2 separate regions of the Homo sapiens genome follow, and region 1 is linked to region 2. Evidence: fine-mapped expression QTL. A gene starts in region 2. The other region holds a variant in brackets. All regions are shown on one strand. Distances are from middle to middle. Region 1 holds the start of PRR35 (proline rich 35). Region 2 holds the start of RHBDL1 (rhomboid like 1).

What was found. PIP is the estimated chance that this variant, and not a neighbour inherited with it, causes the effect.
Region 1: its variant is fine-mapped to the expression of RHBDL1 in subcutaneous fat (GTEx, PIP 0.94).

The regions. Positions count from the first base shown.
Region 1 is chr16:555,278-568,407 of GRCh38, reverse strand. It overlaps PRR35 (proline rich 35), which reads right to left and starts at 8,014. Exons shown (of 3, transcript NM_145270.3): 1 at 7,747-8,014; 2 at 4,032-5,152; 3 at 2,879-3,734. The coding sequence starts at 5,113. The coding sequence ends at 3,101. NHLRC4 (NHL repeat containing 4) reads right to left here and starts at 1,403. Exons shown (of 2, transcript NM_001301159.2): 1 at 1,333-1,403; 2 at 1-937. The coding sequence starts at 360. RefSeq lists enhancers at 1,079-1,128, 1,077-1,972, 2,868-3,764, 6,798-7,343, 7,344-7,890. The variant T/C (reference allele first, on the strand shown) is at 5,240.
Region 2 is chr16:671,731-680,318 of GRCh38, reverse strand. RHBDL1 (rhomboid like 1) reads right to left here and starts at 4,648. Exons shown (of 8, transcript NM_001278720.2): 1 at 4,490-4,648; 2 at 3,822-3,983; 3 at 3,423-3,647; 4 at 3,200-3,348; 5 at 2,931-3,043; 6 at 2,760-2,860; 7 at 2,620-2,680; 8 at 2,051-2,538. The coding sequence starts at 4,528. The coding sequence ends at 2,267. RHOT2 (ras homolog family member T2) reads right to left here. Exons shown (of 19, transcript NM_138769.3): 12 at 8,538-8,588; 13 at 8,317-8,459; 14 at 8,138-8,235; 15 at 7,935-8,065; 16 at 7,753-7,830; 17 at 7,494-7,616; 18 at 7,189-7,391; 19 at 6,148-6,839. The coding sequence ends at 6,713. It also overlaps the pseudogene STUB1-DT. RefSeq lists silencers at 1-40, 321-430, 4,574-4,623 and an enhancer at 4,822-5,356.

The DNA of each region.
Region 1 (13,130 bases), 110 kb after region 2:
CTTGAGGCCCTGGTACACCTTGATGGAGTTGTCCTTGGCATCAGCCACCAGGAGCTGGCCCTGGGGTGCACAGGCCACTCCCAAGGGCTGCCCAAGCCCCTCTGACACCAGGCAGATGGGTGGCCCAGCCCGGGGAAACAGGGTCACCTGGCGCCTCTGCTCGTCTGCCACAATAACATTGCCCTCTGAGTTGGAGCAGATGCCCGCTGGGCAGCCGAAAGTGTGCCCCGTCCAGCCCCCCAGGGAGCCCAGGGGTTGGCGGGCACTGCCAAACAGCCTCACATCCCCAAACTCCTCACTCACAGCAAGGCCCCCATCAGGCCCTGGGCCCACCCAGCAGGGGCCCTCCAGACCCAGCATGGAGGCTGGGGCCAGGGGCTCCCAAGCAGGACCCAACGAGAAGCTGTGCACAGCCCCAGGCAAGTAGTCCGTCACCAGGAGGCGGTTGAGGGCATCCACAGCCAGCCCTCGGGGAGACAGGAAGGTGCCCACTGTCACCCAGTGGCCCCCGGGGTCCCGGGCTGTGTGCTGGAGTGCATGGACAGCCCCATGGATGGGATCGCTGACCACCACAAGCCCTGACGCTGTCACAGCCACGTCCTCTGGAACGAAGGCCCCGCTCCCCGGAGTGCGGCAGGGCAGGAGGCAGATGGGGCGTCCCTCCAGATCTAGCACGTGGACACAGGGTGCAGCCCCGGCCGTGAGGAAGAGCAGGCCATCGGGGGAGCAGTGCAGGCCCCGGGGCCCTCCCACAGCCCCTGCGGGCACCCGGATCCACCCAAGCAGCCGGAGCTGCCGGGAGCCCGTGGAGTCTCCAGGTGGGTCCAGTGTGAGGTGCAGACACCTGGAGGCCAGAGTCCAGTCAGTCCGAATCACCGTCTCAGCTTCTCTGCAGCTGGGTCACGCTTGGGGCTGCAAGAGAGAGAATAAGGCCCCACTGTGTGTGGGAATGGCAAAGTCACTCCTCCAGTTTCTTCCTATGAGGCCGGGTCCTCCTGGTCCTGAGGGTCTACCTGGCCACCAAGCCCAGCGGCCACCCTAGTGTCTAGGTGCCTGGGACTTGAGTCTGGGAGACACATGACCCGTGGAGCTCGCTGTGGGTTTTCCCCTGAGCCCCAGATGAGCTCATGGGCCTCAGACAGATAAGCAACATTTCTCAAATCCATCTGCCTGTGGAACCCCTTTCTACGGCGGGGGGGCGGTCACCCACACACAGCCCTTCTACCCGAGCCCCTAGGTCAGGGAGACTTCTGACCCCTTAGGGGCGAGGCAGCCTATTCCGAGGGCCTCCACCTGCCCCACCGAGAGAGGCCGGGGGGAGGGGTCTCTTACCTGGGCCCTGTCTCGCTGGGCCCTGCTTCGGGGCTGGGTGGCTGCAGCCTCTGTTGTTGGAAACTAGAACTGGAGGAAGTGGGAGGAGCCACTGGCAGGGACGCAGCTGGGCCGGGTGGAGGAGGGAGAGTGCAGTCTCCGGCCTTGGCCCCTGAAGCTTCTATGAAAGAAAAACCAGGTCCCCTGAGGACTCCCCATGCTGTGGTGTTCCTGCCTCCGCGCCTTGTTGCAGGCTGCGCCCTCTGCCCGGACACTATTCCCACGTCCCCTACACGGCCAGATGCCATGCAGCCCACCCCCCTCCAGGGGTCCCCCATGGTCCCCCCACAACCAGCAAGTTCATTACTCCAAGTGGCAAGGCAGCCCCAGGCTGCCACCCCCAAGCAGGGTCCTTGGGTCTGGACCACAGGCGGGTGACCTGCTGGCTGAGGCACCCTCCATGAGGCCTGTCCTGCTCCCCACGGGTGACAGCGAAGGAGGTCGTGTCTCCACACCTGGGAGACGGGTGCTGTTGCCCCCAGCAAGGCCATGCTCACCTGTCTGCTCAGTGGGGGTGAGAAACTGAGGTGCAGTGGACATATGGGGTGCAGTGGACATATGGGGGGCGGGGGCTGAGGACAGGGAGTCTCCCTCAGACTCGGGACTTGGGAACAGTTCCTGGCTGCCCAGAGCCCCCTGCAGCCCCTCCAGGAAGCCTCTGGGTAGAGGGGCCCGGCTGGGACCTGTCCCCACAGCACTCCGCGCCTGGCCAGGCAGCACCCCAGCTCTAGCTGCCCCGAGGCAGGGTCGGGGCTGATGCTATCTCCCTGGTAGTTAATGGGGCCGCTGCCAGCCTGCTTGGACTGGCCCCAGCCCGGCTGGACGCAGGCAGGAACTGCTTCTCCTCCTGGGGGGGCGATGTGGGCTCCAGAGCCCATTCCAGGGTGGGCGTGGAGGGTGTGGCCAGCTCTCCCAGGAGAGAAGTGATTTGCTGTGGGGGTCCCGGGTGCCCCTCCCTGTCTGCCCATCCCCTGCCCGTGGGAGGGCCAAGCCAGGCCCTGCTGGGAGGGAGGCAGTGAGCTGTGAAGGCTGATACCTATCACGGCTGCAGGGGCTGGCAGGGGCCAGCAGAGCCCACGCTGGGTGAGCAGCCTCCAGCCACAGAGCCCCGGGGCCACCGTTTAACCGCAGGAGAGCTGATATGAGCGCGGCCTTGCTGGATTCAGAGGCTAGAGGATGTTCAGGGGTCCGTGCCCACCCCCGACACACCAAGACACAGGCCGAGCAGCCCAGTCCACACGCCTCTCCACCCCCGACACACCAAGACACAGGCCGAGCAGCCCAGTCCACACGGCTCTCCTGGCTCAGCTCCCGTCGCCGATGTCCCGCCCCACCCCCAGACCCCAGCCCCGCGGGGAGGGCCCAGCCCACAGGAGAGGGCCGAGTCTGAAGACAGAGGCCCAGCAGGACTGCTGCCCACCCAGGCCTCCCAGGCCAGGACACTTCCTTAGGGGGGTGTCCAGGTGGCTACACTAGGGCCCCAAAGGAAGGAGGCACAGACGGCGTGTGTGAACAGTTTCTGTTTTAATGTCCACAATTGTGATCAATAAATAACTGTGACCTCCAGTGTCCCTGTGTGGCCCCAGGGACAAGCGTTGGCCACGGCCCGTGGGGGTCTATCCACATGCATGCGGAGGCGGGGCAGGTCCCAGGCAGGTGAGGGGCAGGGGCTGCAGGAGAGGGGCCGGCATGCTGCAGGCAGAGACAGTCAGACCTCAGGCGCTGCAGGTCAGACCTCGGCGCCCTGGGGGCTCTGCAGGCCACAGACAGCCTCAGGGGTCTGGGAACTCCTCGTCGCAACACAGGTGCCCCAGCCACTGCCAGGAATGACAGGGTCATCTGGGGCTGCGAGGGGGAGCCCTGGGGGTGGGACGCTGGAGTCGGCCTCACACTTGGTGGTGTGGCCAGAGAAGGGTTGGGGCGCTGCAGGGCCCAGCATGCCGGGTGGCTCGGGGGTGCCCCCGGTCAACACGGGACCCAGCTCGGGCCGCCCCCACGCCTCTCCAAGAGCCTGGGGCCCCTTGGCGGGCGCACGTTTCACAGAGAGGTCGAGGGGTGCGTCTGGCGGCCTCACGGCCTGCTCCAGCGCCTGGTGAATGGTGAGCAGCTCCAGGCGGATCTTGCCCAGCTGCTCCCGCAGGGGTCTCGGGGCCAGGCCCCCCGCGGGCCCCAACTGTCCCAGGCGCTGCTCCACCCTGGCGTAGTCACCGAGGGCTCGGGTCAGGTCCTCGCCCACATGCTCCGGGCTTCCTGGCACTGGGCCCCGTGGCTGCAGGGGGAGGGGGCCCTCAGGGCCGGGGGTCTCAGGGCCGCCTGGATCCCCGTCCTCAGGCCACAGCATCACAGAGGAGCCGGTGGGCAGGCTGTGGGGTGGAAGCTGGTCAGGAGGCCGCACTGCCCCCACAGCGCCCCCGGCCCCTGCCCCTCTCCCCTCACGGCCTCTGCCCTGTGGCCCCAGCCTAGAGCCTAGGCTCTCCTGGAGACCCCGAGGACCCCCGCGCTGGCTCTCGGGTCTCAGTTCCCCTCTGTGGCCTGGAGCCCACTTTCCCAGCGACTGAGCTCAGGACGGACCCCAGCCGCCATGCCCAGCCGCCCAACCGCCATGCCCAGCCGCCCAGCCCCTCCGTCCACCCCAGGAACCGGGAGCCCAAGACGCCCACCTGCTCCGGGAACAGAACCTTGTCAGGCTGGGGGATGCCTTCGGAAGCTCCAGCCTGCTTCCCAGGGACAGCCTCCTCCTGGGGTCACTCTGGGCTGCCCGCTCCAGCTCCCCCTCCTGCCCTGGGTCCCTGGGGGTGACTCGGGGCCAGGGCCCCAGCCCTGGAACTGGCACCTTCAGCAGGCCAGGAGCCGGAGTCCCAGAGGGGCTCCTGGGGGAGACAGGGGCCTTGGCAAGGGCAGCTTTGCCTGCTGGCAGCCCCAGAGTGTGCTCCAGAAGCAGCGGGTAGTACAGGCGGGGGGCCGGGGTGGGGCGCTGAGGGGGCTGCACGGCTGGGAAGGCCGTGGCCGGGGGCAGCAGGGGGCTGGCCGAGGCCAGGAAGGGCACATGGGCTGCAGCGGCCAGTGAGGGCCCCAAGTAGGAGAAGAGGCCGGGGCTGAGCGGGTAGTTGACGCCCAGCAGAGACAGGTGGAGGCTGTGGGCCTCAGGGAACTCCCCTGGGGCAGGCGGGGGATAGCAGGGGACGCTGCCCTCAGGGCCTGCTGAGGCCATGTCCCCCGCACCCACGCCCCTTGGGTCCCCTCCCATCCCCGGCTTCCACGACTCAGGCAGGAGCCCACTGGGGCCGGGACCCTTCCGGGTGGCCCTAGCCACAGGGGGTGGTGGCCCTGGGGACCCCTTGGCCCTGGACTTGGGGCCTCCGCCACAGTGCAGGGAGTGGATGTCGGCGACCACGAGGTCAGGCGCGGGGGCAGCACCTGTGGGCCGTGCTCCCTGGGGTTGCCTGCCGGGGTCGGACTCCCCAGGGCGGTCTGGGGTGGGTGCGTGGGGCCTAGGCGTGGTGGAGCCACGGCGGCACGCCCAGTCTGGGGAGTCTAGCAGCAGGGACAGGGAGTCCTTGCAGAGGCTGTACTTCATGTGGTTGTAGAGGTGTGACTTCTCCAGGCAGGTGAAGGGGCACTGGAAGCATTTGTAGTTGTAGGGTTTGCCCCAGGGCCGCGGGATGTAGTGTGGCTTCTTGGGCTTCCGAGACCGCGCCCTCGCCCCTGTGCCCACGCGGCATGAGCCCGCCTCCCGCGACATGGCAGCCTGCTATGAGGCAGGGCCGGGCACCATGGCCACCTGTAGATGGGGCCACAGTCAGTGCCAAGCCTGCCTCTGACTAACTCCCCACTCCTCTCCATCCATGGCTCCCCAGGCTCCAGGGAC[T/C]GGAGCCTGGGTGCTCCCCCCACCCCGCCGCCTCTGCCCTGCAACGTGCCCCCCGAGCCCCATCCTTCGGCTCCTCCCCACGTGCACTTCCAGGGTGGCAGCAAAGTCCAGGGCACCAAAAAAAAAAAAAAAAGTCCAGGACAGCGAGCTGCATCTGACGCCGATCAGCAGCACGTCATTTCTGAGTGTTAAGTGTAGCCTAGGCAATATTGGAAAGGCACACTAGAAAGGTGTTCATTGTTTATCGGAAATTCGATTTTAACTAGGCGTCCTTTATTTTATCGGTTGACCCTACACACATCCCCACCCCTGAGGCCAGGCCGACTTGCTGGCCAATTTCTAGGATAGTTCAGCCCACACCCATCTCCCCACAGCATGTGAGTGGCTAAAAGAATCAGCGTGACCAGAGCTCACTTCGGGTGGACGTCAGCCTCCTGGTCTCATTCCCTCCAGCAACCCTGGCCCCTGCCAATCTGCCTGTTCAAAGCCTAGGAAAAGGCACTGAGATGAGACACCAACGGAAGGGTCTGTGTGGGATGATGCTGCGTGTGTGTGTGTGTGCCTGTGTGTGTCTGTGTGTGTGCATGTGTGCGTGTGCATGCACGTGTGTGTGCGTGCATGTGCGTGTGTGTGCACACGTGTGTGCGCCTGTGTGTGCATGTGCCTCTGTGCATGCTTGTGTTCATGTGCACGTGTGTGCATTGTGTGTGCATGTGTGCATGCATGCATGTGTGAGTGCGTGTGTATGCGTGTGTGTCTAAAGGCGGCACAGAGCCTGCTCTAGCAGGGCGTCAGGTGGGCACTGGGGGTCTCTTAGGGGGTCAGTCTCATGTGGGGCCAGGCCAGGCTGTGGGGAGTGGACGTCCCAGCATGGCCCCACGGCTCAGCCACCTGCTCAGCCCAGCTCCATCTGGGTGGCTTCGGGCAGGTCAGCGGCCGAGCCTGCAGCGGCCACACTCAGCCAAGACCCGCTCCTCCCCACGCCCCACACGGCGCTGGTATGCGCGCCACACTCCATCTGGGCCGCCACCTGGGCTGTCCACCGCCCCAGCACGCGCCTGTGTGGGGTGCACAGCACGCCTGCGCACACGGGCTTTGGGTGTGTGTACACAGCCCACAGGCTCACACAGAGCCCTCACCCAGTGCCCGGAGAAGCCACCTCTGTGCCACCTAAGCTCAGAACGGAGTCTGCCACCAAGTGCGGGGCCCTGGCTGCACACACCTCACACTCCATCACGGTGAACACGGCTGCTTGTCCGTGATAACACACTCACCACCCATCCAGGTGTGGGGGGGCTTTCCAAACCACTCCAACACGGCACTCACATGCTCACACAGGCCCTACACACCGACTCCCCAGGACACACGCAGACCTGGCTGGGGGTCGCACCCGTGGTCATGCATGGCCAGTGGGTTGAGCAGGGTAGGGCTGGGGCACTGCTGTCTGCTGCCCCCAAAACACTGTGTTGGTGCCGTTGGGGGGACGACCAACAGGGCTGGAGAAGTCCACTCGTCCAAAGGCTTGGGGCCCTGCAGGGCAGTCACGGGCTGCAGGGGCAGGCAGAGGCTGACCAGCTGGTCTGTGGCTGAGACAGGGTGGCGGTCGGGAGGCAGGGGCTGGGCCAGGAGAGGTCCTGGGGCTCCCCGAGGGGCTGCAGACCCGGCCTGGACTGGGTGGTGGGTGCAGAGGCGGCCCCTTCTCCCTGCCCGCCGCCCCCCCCACCCATGTGGATGACAAATGGGTGTGGGCGCTCCGGCGACAGAGGCGGCTGTGCCGGGCCATCGATCACCCAGCCCTGGGAGCCACACAGCTGTGCCAGCCGATGCCACAACCCATCCCGCCTCCCAGCAGGGACCGGGGGCTCCCGGGTCAGGGGCTTGTCCAAGGGGCTGTCTCAGCAGCTGCTGACCCCTTGGGGACCCGGAGGATAGCTGGCACCCACCTGGTGTGTGTACACAGAGCAAAAGACACCCCTGGACAGCAGCCACACGCACACACAAACGCATACGCACTCACACGCGCGTCCCAGCCGGACCCGGCAATCGCTCCCGGGGCAGCCAGCAGCCCTGTGCCAGGCCCCGACACCCGGCCCCACTCACCTGTCCCTGTTTGGGGGAGAGCTGGGGGAGAACCGGTGGCACGGGGGGCACAGGCACCCCCACAGGGCAGGAGGGGGCACCCAGCAGCCGGGGACCCTGATCGGCCACCCGCAGATCCTGCTGCCCCCCCCCCCGGGAACGCAGGGCGCCCCACACAGGCGGGTGCGGCGAGCGCGAGGTCAGGCGTCTGCCCCAGACCCCAGACCCGGCCCCTGCCCTCCCCGCCTGGCCCCTGAGGGCGGCCCTCCCTCCCCCCGCGCTGCTCCTGGACTTCGAGAAGAGGGTGGGGGGGACCCGGCCGCCCCCCGCGCCCCCCACACGCCTGGCCACCCGCTGCCCCCGCGCCCCGCGTCCAGCCGGCCCCGCGACGCCCAACTGGCCGCCCCCGCGGCTCCCGCCGCTCCTACCTGCGCCCGGCCGGGAGCGGAGCCGCCAAGTCTGCGAGGCCGCGTGTAGGGCGCAAACTTCCCGCCCCTCCCCGCCCCGCGCCGGCCGCGACTCGGACCCCGCGGACGCGCTGGGGCTCTGGGGGTGGGATGCGGCTCCCGTGGGGGAAACTGAGGCCCGGCGCCGGGAGCCGGACCTCCCGGGTCCGCGGTCCCTCGAGCGGCAGCGACTCCCGCAGCCTCCGCCGCCGCCCGCGTCCCCCCGACGCCGCTCGCACCTCCCGAAGTTGGCGGCAGAGGCGGGCGCGCGTGCGCCTGGGCTCCGGGCTCCGGGGGGCGCTGCGACCTCCGACCGCGCTCGCGGCGGGAGGGAAGGAGCAGCCCCCGGCCCGAACCCCGCGCCCCCGCCGCCCGCGCGCCCCCCGCCGCCCCCTGGCGCGCACTCACCGGCCTCGTGCGCCGGGACCGGCTCAGCTCTCGGGGCGCGCGGTGGAGCGGCCGGGAACCCGGGAGGCAGCGGACGGAGAGCGGACTGCGGCGCAGGTGTGCGGCCGAGTCAGGGGCGCCCGGCGCCTCCCGCCCCCGTTGCCCGCAGGCTGCCGCGGGGGTGCACAGAGGCCGCCAGGTCTCCCGGGTCCCCGCCGCGGCGTGATGGGTGTCAGCGGCGCGGGGCGCGGGAGAGGGGCCGTCAGCGCTTATCCATCAGGGCTCTGGCCCCTGACAGCCGCCGGCCCACCCGAGCCAGGGCCCCTGGGGGCTGTCCTGGGGGACAGGGGTGCCGCGGACTGAGCCAGCGGAGCCGGGCTCCCTTCCTTGCCCTCCCTGGGCGAGCCCTGCCCTCCGTTCTCTTTTCCTCTAAACCGGAGGCTGCCCGGACCGGCCCCTCGCACCCCGCCCTGCCGGCTGACCGCCTCCACCTGGGGCTGGTCTCCAGCACCCTCCCCCTTCCTGGATGCGGACCCCTCCAGCCCTCACTCCCGGCTCCTGTGGGAGGTGCCTCAGCGCTGCCCCACGAGGCCACGCACTTCCCTGCTGTTTGAAAGACCCCCTCCCCACGGGAGTCCCCTCCTGAGAGGACCTGGGGCGGTGGAGGAGAGAAGCAGGGCCAGGGCTGCTCCCAGCCCCACCTCCCGGGCTGCACCAAGTTCCAAGCAGCTCCCTGAGCTGCCAGAACGTAAAGGCCTGGAGCCCCACTGCTCAGCTGGGGCCTAGGGGAGGTTCGCCTGACCGGCCTGCTCCCTCCCGGACACAGGCATGGCTGGGGCAGAGCCCCTGACTTCGCTCAGGGGAGACGTCCTAAACCCGACACTTGCGGTAGGCGGGCGTCTCGGGGTCTCCAGCCAGAGGGGAGTGTGCTACTCCCTGCTGACTCTGAAACAGCACAGGGAGCCCGGCCCACATAGCTCCCCAGGACCTGGGGCTCTCTGCAGGCTCAGCCGCAGGCTCCCGGGCTGTCCCCAGCTCAGGTCGGGGTCAGGGGTGCCTTGGGGAAGAAGGGAGGACCCCACGGGGCTTCTGGGTGTCACCCCTCGAATGGGGCAGAGAAGAGAGCTCAGCAGCATCTCCGTGGCCCCGGTCCGGCTGCTGGCAGAGCCCCCTGGTAGAGCACACCCAGGGTCCATGAGGAACAGCCCCTGGTTCTGGGGTGGGCGTGGGGCTCTGTCTCCCTCCTGCCTCCATGCCACCTTCCCTGACACAGCCGCACACGCCCGTCTGAGGGAAGTCCCTGGGGCGGGGCAGGGGACTGGGAGGGGTGCTGTGGATGGCAGAGCATGCCAGCCTTCTCTCTGCCCACCTGGCCTGGCCCAGCTGACCAGCTGACCGTGCAGGCAGCTCCGGGCCGGGAGACAGCTTGGGCTGCCGTCACGCCAGCAGCCCCGTGGAGAGCGGGGGCCAGGAGGCCGGCTGCTTCTGTACATAGACTCTACTCTGGACGTGTTCAGCTGAGCACTGCCCCGGGAGACTAGGGTCCAAGGTCACCCTGACACCAGTAGTCCCTCAGTGGCCAGCCCGAGACTGACCCCTTTGAAGGTCTGGAAGAGGCCACAGCTGACAGCACAGGAGACCAACTGGCTGGAGGCTCTGGCCATTGTCCAGGGGAGGAAAGTAGGGAGCAGGGAGGCCTGGTCTTGGAGCACCTAGATGTCAGCATACAGGAAATAAAGCCCAGTGAAGCTCAGGGGACCAAGGAGCCCCAGAGGGGGAACAAGGCCGTGTCTAGCGCTGAGCAGGCTGAAGGAGCACCTCCACCCCTCACCACCGATGGGCCTTTGCAGAAGTTTGCATGAGAAGAGAAGAGGGGCAGCCTCGAGAGGGGCCCCGGGGCACAACTTGGACGTGTTTCTGGCCTCCCGGAAGGACTCTGGCAGGGAGGATGAGGGGGCCCTGCACCTGCTGGTGGGGGTCCTGAGATTCAGCCGTGCACGAGGTGGGGGGTGAGGAGCATGTGAGGCCAGTACACTGGGTGCCCAGATGACTGTTCCCATCACAAACAGCCAGGCGAGGCCGGGATATCAGTGCCAGCACCCCGCAACCACAGGGCCCCCTGGGCACGTCAGCTTCCTCACTGTGGCCATGACCCACCTGCTTGGTCCCAGCTCTTGCACACTGGGCTGACTTTGGGTTTGGAGAGGTGGCTTCTGCTTCCTGAGGCAGTGACTGGGACTCTGTTTTGGCACCTGTGCCCCCACCCCCCCAACTTTCTGGCCCATGGCCCCCATCTGCAGAATGGGCAGTGGGGTGCTCAGTGTCCGGGCACTTCTGCTCTGGTCCTAGTGGGTGCCCTGATGTCTCCTTAGCCAGTCCCAGTGCAGGGTGGGATGGGGACCCCATGGCCCCTCCTTCTGCCTCCAGCCAGAAGCTCATTTTTGGCCATTAACCTCTTCTGCCCGGTCTGCCCACGGCTGCCCGCCTGTCACCTCCATTAACAATGGGACTCTGTGCCGGGGGCTCACGGGCAGGACGGAGAGCTGGGCTCAGAGAAGGCAGCGGAGGCAGCGCTCGGCATGGCCAGTGCCCGGGGGCAGGCCTGTCTCATCCCCTCAGTGTCGACACACAGCCAGTGTCAGGACAGGTGCAGGGGCCGGGGTGCCTGCACCCACACAGTGAGGGCAGTGTCAGGGCTGCAGCCAGGCTGGAGGCCCCACGCAGGTCCTGAGACCGGGGCAATCTATCCAGCGGCAGCAGGTTGGAGCCCCCACGTGGGGTCAGTACCTTGCAAGGTGTCCGGACACAGCTGATGTCTGTCCTTTCAATAACGGACCCCAGGGCCTGTGGCCACCCTGAGCACTTCAAGAACCCCAGGTCTACAGAGCATAGGCCTCCTGGGGGCTTCCTCCTTGCTGCCCACTTGAGGATCCCTGGTTGAGAGGGGCAGCCCAGCCTTGGCGGAAGGGGTCATGGATACACGTGAGGGCCCTCGGCACCAGCCTGAGGCTGCTGGCCTTGATGGGCGGGTACACAGTGGGGGTGCCAGGGGAGAACGGAGGGGGCTGGGCAACCGAGTGGGCCAGAGCGCCCAGGACAACGGCCCAAGGGTGTGGGGGGCACACGAAGAGCCTGCGGAGCTCTGGGGTCCCTGGGTCCATCCACCTGAGGGAACGGGGGCCCTGTTAGGAGGCGCCTGAATGGGGGCTCCAGGAGTCTTCCGGCTCGAGCACTACCAGGGATAGTCCTCCCCAGCAGCCCTGACCATCCCAGAGTCCACACCAGAGAGTCCCCTCCCCACCCGCCTCCCGGCTCTGGAAGACCCCAGCTGGGCCCTTCCCCATGCACTACACTCTCATAGACGTGCCGGGTCACTGGCCACCCTGGGCCGGGTGCGGGGCTGACCCTCTGTGTGTCCTGAGCCTCTGGGACGGAGGAGGGTACAGGACGCTCCTTGGAGGGCTGAGCTGCTGTGGTGGGAGTGAGCCCCGTCCCAGGAGGCTGGGATGTAGACTGACAGAGGGGGCAGCCAGCCAGGCGGGTGGGACGGGAGGCTGAGGCTGCTCGAGCCCCCACCGGCTCCCGAGCCTGGCACTGGCCAGCAGCGCCCGGGGCCGACAGCAGCCATATGTTGGGAAGAGGAGCTGTGTGTGTCTCTCTGCGGCCCCCGGGGCTGGCCTTCCTGGGCCTGTCACAGATGATTTTCCCCGCCTGAGTGGCAGGCGGGCTGGCGGGCGGGGTGGCGGGGCCTCCAACTGGCAGGTGGGGTGGTGGGGCCCCATGTCCAGCCCCCCCATAGCCCTCAGCACCAGGGCTGGCCACTGTTGGGGTAGATCCGGGTCCTGGGCCTTGGCCTCCCACCCCCCAAAACCTCACTGAGCACCCCCGGCCTGCCATGGCCACCCCTGCCCAGGTCTAGGTCGGGGTCCTAGAGGAGCCCTGGCCGGCCAGTGGGGAGCGGGCACTCCTGCCAGGACATGGGCAGGCAGCCAGGGGTCCACACTGGGCAGCAGTGCGCCCCGGGCAGGCGGGAGAGGGCCTGGAGCCGCGGCCCAGTCAGCCTGGAGCCCAGAGCTGTGGAAGGAGGCGAGGAGGCCACGGCTAATTTGTACACTAAATGCTTCTGACAGCGATGCCTCATAAGTGAGAACTTGCCACTGCCCACCCCGGGAAGGCTGTGGCCAGCAGCGCCAACAAGAGGGGCCAGGAGAGGGCACCGTGGGGGCACAGGGCTGGGACAGACCAGATACACCAGAGAGATGGTGCTGTTGGTGGGGGTGAGACCCAGGAGGAGATGCGGGGGAGGGGAGAGGCCTGCACAGAGAAGGGAGGGGAGGGCTGGGCGGGGGCCGGGCAGTGACAGTGGGAAGGAGTCAGCCCCGACAGCTGCCACCAAGGTCTGCCCCGCGCCAGGGCTGTGTGTCCTGCCCAGCCAATCCTCCCTGCTGCCTGCAGGACGCTCGCATCTTTTCCCCTTACCTGCTGCCAGCCGCCTCCTCCAGGCCTCCGCAGCAGCCCCTCACGTGGCCCCGGCCCAACACCTGGCAGGGTCTGTGCTGTGGGACCCTGAGTCCTCTGCAGACGCCCCCCCTTTCCCTCATCACCTCCCTGTGGGAGCTGCTCCCGGGGGCTTTCAAGTGGAGAGGAGGCTGCTGGCTGGGCTAGTGGGGACTCTGGGCAGCTGAGGGGGTGGGCACGGACCCCTTGCCTGCTGTGCGGGACTCCTGCAAGAAGGAGGGTCCTTCTTGTGGGCCTCTGTCCTGGGCCACCCCAGGACTGGGGTGGCAGAAGCCAGAGAGGTGGGTGGTGGTGGGGGTGGGGCCAGGGACAGAGGAGCAGGGTCTCGGGAGGAACGGGGGTCCCAGATACCCCAGGACTAGACAGAGCCAGCTCTGTGCCAAACAGGAGCGGGCACGAGCCCGGCCCCCACCCACAGGAGGAGTGTGACGTGGCGCAGTCGCGGAGCAGCAGGGCCGGCG
Region 2 (8,588 bases):
GGACACTGGGCCCGCGACGTCGGGGGCTGGGAGGAACGCTCCAGTTCCCTGTCCCCGCGCTCTTAAGGGTGGGCGTTCGCGTAGGCCCTGGCCTGCCCTGCTGAGGTCTCTTCGGAACCCGCCTCGGCGGCGGCCGCCACACACATTCGACTTTCCCAGTGAGATGCCTCACTTGCTTCGCTGAGGGCGCGCTCCCGCAACAGCCTGTCCCGACCACCTGGGGTTCCGCCCCTGTCCCAACGCGCAGAGACCCCTCCCCCGGCAGCCGGCCCCATCCAGAGGCCCCGCCCCCAGCAGCCGGCCCCATCCGCAGAGGCCCCGCCCCCAGCAGCCGCCCAATCCAGAGGCCCCGCCCCCAGCCGCCGGCCCCATCAGCAGAGGCCCCGCCCCCAGCCCCATCCGCAGAGGCCCCGCCCCCAGCAACCGCCCAATCCAGAGGCCCCGCCCCCAGCACCCGGCCCCATCAGCAGAGGCCCCGCCCCCAGCCGCCGCCTCCCGCCCCTGCGCGTGAACGTAGCGGCTTCCCACGCGCTGTGGGGTGTGAGGACCCCAGTCGCTGGGCTGCCATTCTGGAGCGCCACGAGAGGTGCTACGGGCGAGCGCGAGCCCCCGAGGGCGGCTGGAAGCCCCGGACTGTTGGTAGAGTGGAAGGGGATAGAGATCGGTGGGGCGAGCGTCCTCCGTGGCCAGTCCTCCCCTCACCGCCCTTCCTCAGGTATCGGGAAGAGTTGCCAGCGGCCATCAGGGGCAGAGCAGAGAAGCATGTGACAGGGAGCTGGAGCGGCTGCTGGCCTGGCAGCTTGACTGTGAAGGGCGGCCCGCCCCGAGGGCAGGGCCTCCGTAGCGCGGGTCTTCATTGGGGCGTGGCATCGGCGGGGCGGGTGTCTCCAGTGGGGGCGGGGCCTCCCTGGTGGGTCCAGCACCCCAGGCACCCTGACCTGGCCTCCCACAGAGGGGCGCTTCCGGCCACGTCTGCAGCAGCTGGTGGCCACCAATCCCCCTGAGCTGGTTGTGCACTGTTCGACCGCCACCTTCTGCCTCCTGCCAGATGTGGGGGCTGCAGTCACCGAGCTGTGTGCCCTCTGCGGTGTGGGCCCACCACAGCCTCGGGTGAGTTGGGTGGGCACGACTTGGGTACATAGGCGTTCTTGTCTGTGAAGCGGGCAGTCTGGGCCCTTGCGTGTCGCTAGGAGCAGGAACCATAGGGCCCTGGGCTGCTGGGAGCAGGGTCTCCCAGAGCTTGTCCTGATGGGGTGTGTCTGGCTGCTTCTCCTCGCTGTTCACAGCAGTCCTGGCAGCTGGAGCTCCAGAGATGGAGGCCTTCATGTCAGATGAGGCGGTGGCCACAGTGCCCGGCTGGCCGGCCCCACAGTACACCCTCAGGTACTACCTGCTGTACCTGGGCCAGGTTCAAGAGCGGGCCACAGCTCTGAGCCAAGGGGAATGAACTGTGTGTGGGCAGGTTGGGGTGGCCCGTGCCCCTGGGCCTGAGTCCGTGTGCCCCTCCCTAGCCAGTGCCTCAGGACAGTGGACTCCCTACCTAGTGGAGACAGCACTGTGGACCTGGGCTGTGGGGCAGAGGCTGTGCCCAGACCTGCTGCCCAACCTTGGCCCCAGCCTGGCCACCCACGAGGATGCTAGGCCAGCCAAGAAGCATGGAACCCAGGCCGAGTAAACTTGGCCATGGCCCAGGCCTGCTCACCTGCCACAGAACCTCAGGCCTCCGGGTCTCACTGGACGGCAGGGAGGCTGAAGAGGAGGCTGGCCACTACGGGAGCTCAATAAACACTTCCCAAACTCACGCCTGATCACACACCCGGCCTGACCACACACCTGGCCTGACCACACGCCCGGCCCCCAGCCATCCCGCGTGCCCCCAGCTCCCACAGACACAGCACCTGTGGCCCAGGAACAACTCCCACGCCTGACCCCAGGTGCAGAGATGCACAAGGAGGGAAGTCCAGGCCCCCGTGGTGGGGAGGGCCGTCGCGGTCTGTGCAGCAGGTGTGGGGGCCCTGACGAGTCTCCAGAGCCCGGGACAGCCCCCTGGTGCTGTGTAAAATATTTATTAATTATCCAAAAAGGCTCAGACCGCAAGTCCTGGGAGTGGGGGGTGGGTGGCTGGGACAGGGCCTCCTTTGAGGCCACCCACACCCAAGGGGCACAGCAGCCCTGAGACGTCCGTTCACAAAGGGCAGACGTGAAGGCCCCTGGTGGGCGGCCACCACATGCCCGAGCCCTGGCCTGTGCAGCCTCAGGTAGCCGGTCAGGGCGGTGGGGGGATGTGGGCGCCCAGCAGGTCGTAGGCGAAGACGTTCCAGAAGACGGCGAAGAGCAGGAAGGTGCCGTAGGCCAGCAGCACCACCCACCAGCCGCACTGGTCCCGCAGGCGCTCCTCGTAGCTCCGCAGGATGGTCAGGCCCATGCTCACCCCCACCACCGCGCCTGCCAGGTGCGCCATGAAGCTGGGCTGTGGGCCCGAGGCGGGCAGCGGCGGGGAGAAGCGCAGCCACACGGCCCGGCCCACCTCGGAGCTCACTGCAGAGGGACGCGGCAGGTGGGAGGTGCCCTGGCTGCAGGCTGAGAGGCCCCCCGGCCCTCCCCCCGGCCCCTACTCACTGCACACCAAGGCCAGCACCATCCTCAGCAACTTGTAGGGACATCTCATCCCAGCCCAGTTCTATGGGTGTGTGCAGACGAGAAGTGGTGAGGCTCACCTGGGGCCCCTCCCCACGCCCCCCACCGGGCAGGCCCGTTACCATGACAACGTTGGCCAGGTGTGCCGAGCACAGGGCGTAGACCCCGCCGGAGCCTCCCACCACCGGGGCCCGCATGTCGGTGATGGAGACGGTTAGGGAGCCTGTGTGAGCAAGCGGCGGGTGAGGGTGCAGCCGGCCAGGGCAGGGGGCGGGGGTGCGCGCCTGCCTCACCTGCCAGCACGCCTGCCAGGTAGAGCAGGCTGATGCGGAGCAGGCCGTGCACCATCTCCAGGGGCACCCCGATCATCAGCTGCAGGAGGGCGTTGAACCCCAGCTGCTCCAGCCTGGCCACAGGGAAGCAAACGGGTACGAAGGGTGGGGTCAGCCATCCGGCCCCACCCCCAGCCGTCACCTCAAGTTGCCGCACCTGCCTTGCGGCTAAGCCTTTCTGATGTAATGGCAGGTTGGGGCGGGGCTCACCGGGCAGCAGTGCTACTCACCCAACGTGCATGAACATGTAGGTGAGGAAGCGCCAGGCGCGGGCACGGTGCCCGGGGTGGTACACAAGGGGGCTCTTCATGTACTCGGGGTGGTAGGTCTGCAGCACCCACTTGTTGAGGCGGGCCCCGTAACACAGGAACACGATGATCTGGGGACACGAGTGTTAGGCTGGTCATGGCCAGGAGCGCGGGAGGCTCCCGGGGCAGCGGCCGGGGGGCCCACCTGGGCAAGAGTGACCGAGGCCATGAACACGGGGGGTGGGCAGCTGCGGTGACGGTAGAAGTACCAGCGGCGGTCCACCTCACAAGGCAGGATCTCGTAGGCCACGTAACGCACAAACCGCTTGTAGACACCTAGGCCTGGCTCATCCAGCGGCCCGTCCCGGGGCAGTGCCCGCTGTCCGTTAGCAATGGCCCGCTTGAAACTGCTGGAGCGCTTGCTGCTGATCTGGGGGCAGGGGCCTGAGTGTGGGCCACGGACCTCCCCATGGCACCCCTGCCTGTGAGGCTCACCCAGCTCCCCGCATCCACAAGCCCCCCACCCACCGCCGTGAGGAGCTGCCTGCCCGCCTCCTCTGGCCAGGACACCGTGCCCCTGCCGCCTGCCCACCGTGGCACTGACCAGGTCCACCAGCTCCTGGTAGCAGACCTGGCCCTGCTCGTTGCTCTGAGCCAGGGCCACCAGCATGTCCAGCTTGGCCGGGTCCAGGGGCAGCTCATGGCTGTGCACCAGGCCAGTGAAGGTGTCCGCACCGATGAAGCCTGTGTTCTCGGGGTCCAGCTGCTGCAGTGAGGAGCCGCCAGCCAAGGCCTGAGTGCGGGCCCGACCCCTGGACCAAAGGGCTGGGCCAGGCTGGCTGGGAGCATCAGGCTCAGGCTCCCAGCACTTTTGGGACAGGGGCCCCGTGCCTGTCTGTTCCCTGGGACCCTGCTTGATCCCAGGAGCTGGCAGGGCACTGGTGCCTGGGTCCCAGTCCTCCAGCTCCTCAGTTGTTCCCCCGTCTTCCACCCTACCCATCCTGGAAAGCGAGGGCCAAGGTCCAAGACCAGCCAGCTGCCCGCCCTCCCTCCCTCCCTCCCTCCCTCCCCCCGACTCTCCCTTCTCCAGCCAGGAGCTCTGGTCCAGTCAGTCCTCTCCTGGGGTCCCAGACACACGGACCAAGGTCGTGGAGGGATGAGGTAGGTACCGAGCGGGGCTTTCGGGGAGCTCGGTCCCGCACAAGCTCAGCTCAGCGGCAGGAGGGCCGCATTGGGGGCGGTGCCAGCTCCCCAGACCACCCCCCGACGCACCTGCTCCTGGATGAGCTGCAGCAGCGAGCTCCTGTCCATAGAGCCTGGCCGGGGGCCGGGGTCCGGGGTCGGCGGCCGCGGCCGGGAGGGGCTGCTCTGCGGACGACTCCGCTCCGCCCCAGCCGGCCCGCTCCGCCCGCTCCGCTCGGCGCCGCGCTTGGGCCGCGTCACCGAGTCGCCCGCCTGCCCGCCCCTGCCGCACACGCCGCCACGCGCGGCCAAGACACGCGCGCACCCTGCACGCGGACGCACACCCCGGACAGGAACCGCCTCCAGCTAGCACCGCGTCTCAGCGCCGGCCCCCACCCCCGCTCTGGCGCAGCTCCAGCACACTGGACTACCTCCACGGCAGCCGCTGGTAAATGGAGTCACGGGGATGGGGGGCACCTAAAACCCCCCATGCAAGACCGTTCGCCCTCTCACAGCCTTCCCGGGCTCAGGCCTGTGAGGATGCCACCTCTTCCAGGAAGCCTTCCCTGACCACTGCTTGCTCCCCCTCCAGGCTGACCCAGTACTCCCTGCGGTTCATGTTGCCACCGGCTGGAGCTCCCTGCTTGCAGCAGACACACCCCCTCCCCCCGCAACCCCCCACCGAGCGCAGCAGCAAGGAAGTCCCTCGTCCCGCATGGCCACTACAGCCGCCTCTTAGGAGGAGGAAGACGCTGCTGCAGCCGCCTTGGCTCTGACGACCAAGCCCAGCCCACTCGTCCACACCCTGGGCTGGAGGCCCCTGACCACTCTTGCAACTCCATGCAGGACAGCAAAACCTCCCGCCCTAAGGCGGCGCCAGGGCTGGGCACAAGGGGCATTCCAACACAGAGCAGAACCCCCAGGGGGCAGGGCTGCAGTTGGGATGAGGGGACCTGCTCCTGGGAAGGCGGGCCAACCCCTCCACAATGGAGGTGACAGATAAGACACGTGTGACTATGGCAGCCCCTGCAAGGGCCACTCAGAGGGCTTCTCCTAGGGTTGCAGTAGTCCCAGAAGACAGGCCGTGGGGGTACAGCGGGCTCAAATACCATCAGTCGGGAGGGACCTCAGGGGCCAATGCCACAAGCTCCAAGGCAGGGCCCGTGTGGGCCAGGACTTGGGAAGGGGCCCCACCTGCCACTCCCTAAAGGCAGACATGGGAGGGGGGGGACCAGGCCTTCTGATACTTGTCCGGGTGACCTTGGGAAGGCCACGCCCTGGGTCCCGAGAAGCAGGCATCTGGGCTCAACTCCCAGCCCGTCCCTCCCTCTGGCCCATCCTGCTTCCCTCAGGTCAGGGCCCCAGGGTCACCCCGTTCTGTGGCAGGCAGTGACCACATCTGGTCACACAAGCCCAGGTTCTCGGCGCAGCTCAGCCAGGCTGGCAGGACGCTCTGGGGAGTGAGTGGGCAGTGCCAGGGCACACTGGACCCTGAGAAGGGGTCAGTCACCGGGGAAACATCTCAGGCACCGGCGCCCCCCAGTCCATGCCGGGCGCGCACCGTCCTCCCGCAGTGGGCTCCCACTCCCAGACCGCAGGACCTCCAAGGACACTGGGCTCCCAGGCCACAGCAGCCCAGAGTGGACCTTCCAGAGGCCATATGCACACGCCTGAGACCTCAGAACAGTGACCCAGGAATGAAAGGAGGGGTGGCGTTTCCAGCCCACATAAAGACAAACAACACATTCTAGGTTGAATCAAAGCAAGTTGTCTTCAGAGACTGGGATCCGAGATAGAAAACACACAGTGAAGTTTAATCAGGAACCCAACCTCCGGTCCTCTGCTACAACCACGGAAACGGCTCCAAACTTGAGGGGGGACCCCCCAACGCCTGCTTTTGGCCCAAAGCTCTGCCTTCCAGCCCTCCTCATACCCACTGGCCACCTAGGACCAGGAAAGGGGGGTAGAGCCCTGAGAATTCTGGGTCTGGGGTCACCAGCTCCCACACCTGTGCTCCCCGGCCCCACACACATGATGCCCAGGGGTGGGCAATCCCTGACAGCGGTGGCCGGCACTTGGGAGCTCCTGCTCAGCCACCTGCCACGGCCCACCCTGGGGGTCCGGCAGGAGCCAGGGCAGTGCATGGCAGCATAAGGCCCCGCTGCAGATCGACTGCCTTCAGAAACAAAAAGTCCCGGCGCAAAGGCGTTCCCGGAGTGGCAGCCTGGCCTGCACCCCAGCTGTGCTGCCCCTGCAGAGCCCCAGCAGCGAGGCACACCCAGGTCAGGGGAGGGGGCTTGGGTACCAGGGGCCTCACTGGCTCTTCACCAGGACCCTGTAGAGTGAGAAGCTGAGGACTGCGGCCACGGCGGCCCCGACAACCCCCAGCAGCCCCCGGAGCCAGAAGGAAGAGGGATGCAGCTCTGCGTGGACCAAATGTCTGCAAGAGAGAAGAATCATCTGCAGATACCTCAGGCACATGCCCCCAGCTTGCTGCTGGGCACCCTCCCATGTCCTGGACTCACAGGGCCCCACAGGCGGGGATCCCAGACCAGAGGCACAGCCGGTGGAGGCCAGGCCCTGGAGGGACATGCCTGGGCACTGCCTCCCTCTGCCACACAAAGCTCCACCCCGCCACTCTGGCCCCAGTTCCAGGCCTGACGCCACTGCTGCCCACTGCTCGGATGACAGACACTGCTAGTCCCCAGTTCCAGGCCTGACACCACCGCTGCCCACTGCTCGGATGACAGACACTGCTAGTCCCCAGGGCTGCGCTACTGGGTACCCACGGGAAGGCGGCCATGGTGGCGAGCTGGGTGAAGATGGTGGTGCTGGGCTCGGCTGGGCCAGCACAGGAGAACGGCACGGGAGCGGGTAGCCGGTGCTTGCGGCAAAACTCGGCCGGTGATGGGCCAGACACCGCGACACCTTCGGGCAGGTCGGCCTTGGAGGAGACAAAGAGGCAGGGGGTCTGCCCGTCCATGTAATGGTGCTGTGGGCAGAGAGTGGTATGAGGTACAGTCCTGGGGTGGCCGAGGCACAGCTGGAGGGACAGACCCTGCCCCATGGCCACGTGGCCCCTGCAGGGCCCCACCTTGTAGACGCTGGCACAATGTGCAAAGGACTTTGGGTCACTGCCATCAAACATCAAGCAGGCAACGTCACAGGTGGCGTCCAGCGATGTGGCCAGCAGACCATCTGTGCCCACCTCACAGAGCTGGGACAGACAGCGGCCTTAGGAAGGGTCCCTGGGGCTCGGTCCCCCTAGGGCCATGCTGGGCCAGATCTGCCAGGCAGGCCTGGGTGTCCCCGGGTCCACCCTCGGGCACAGGCCGCGCCGCCCCAGCACTCACGATCAAGTACTTCTCCTGTCCATTGACCTGCACCGTGTCGATGGCGTAGCCGGGAGGCTGCTCCCTCGTGTCCTGGTGCTGAGGGAGGTGAAGTCCTGACACTCGCTGGCTGCAGTGCCCCCCAGATTGCCCTGCCCTGCCCCTGGAGCCCCTGGGGTGGTGGGGGAGTCTAGGGTGCTTACCCCCAGGCCGCGGCCGAGAAAGGCCTGCAGGAAGGCAGACTTGCCCACTCCACGGGCCCCTACCACCTTGCACAGGAGGACGCTCCGCTGCGTCTGTCCCTTCTCCTGGTCCAGCCTCTTCTCACGAGTGACTGTGAGGATAGACACGGGTTAGGGCAGCTGCCAGGATACTGGGCCCAGGCCCAGGGAGGGTGGGTGCCTACCTGTGATGGCATGGGCCTGGTCCTGCTCACAGAGGGTGGGGTAGCCCAGGTAGCCTAGGTGTCCAAGGCAGCTCCGGACGTCCAGGTAGGTCACCAGGCTGGGGGTGGGCGGGAGGCAGGCACAGTGTTATGGTGGGGAGGGTGGTGCGGCAGGCGGGCATGGTGTGGGCCGCACTTACGTCCACTGGCAGAGGTATCCGTGCAGGGGCAACCGGCCGGCCTCTGTGCGGACTGTGCGTGGGAGCTCGGGGCCCCAGGGCGCTGCTGGGAACACACTGAAAAGGCTTTGCAGCTCCACGGGCGAGAGGGCGCCGTCGCGGTCCTGCAGAAGGAGGGATGTGGTGATGTGTGTGCCGGGGAGGGGGCGGGGGCAGGGGCAGGGGACTCGCCATGCTCTCACCTGGTCGTGCTTCTCAAACACTCTCTGCACAAACTGGTAGCCAAGGTGGTT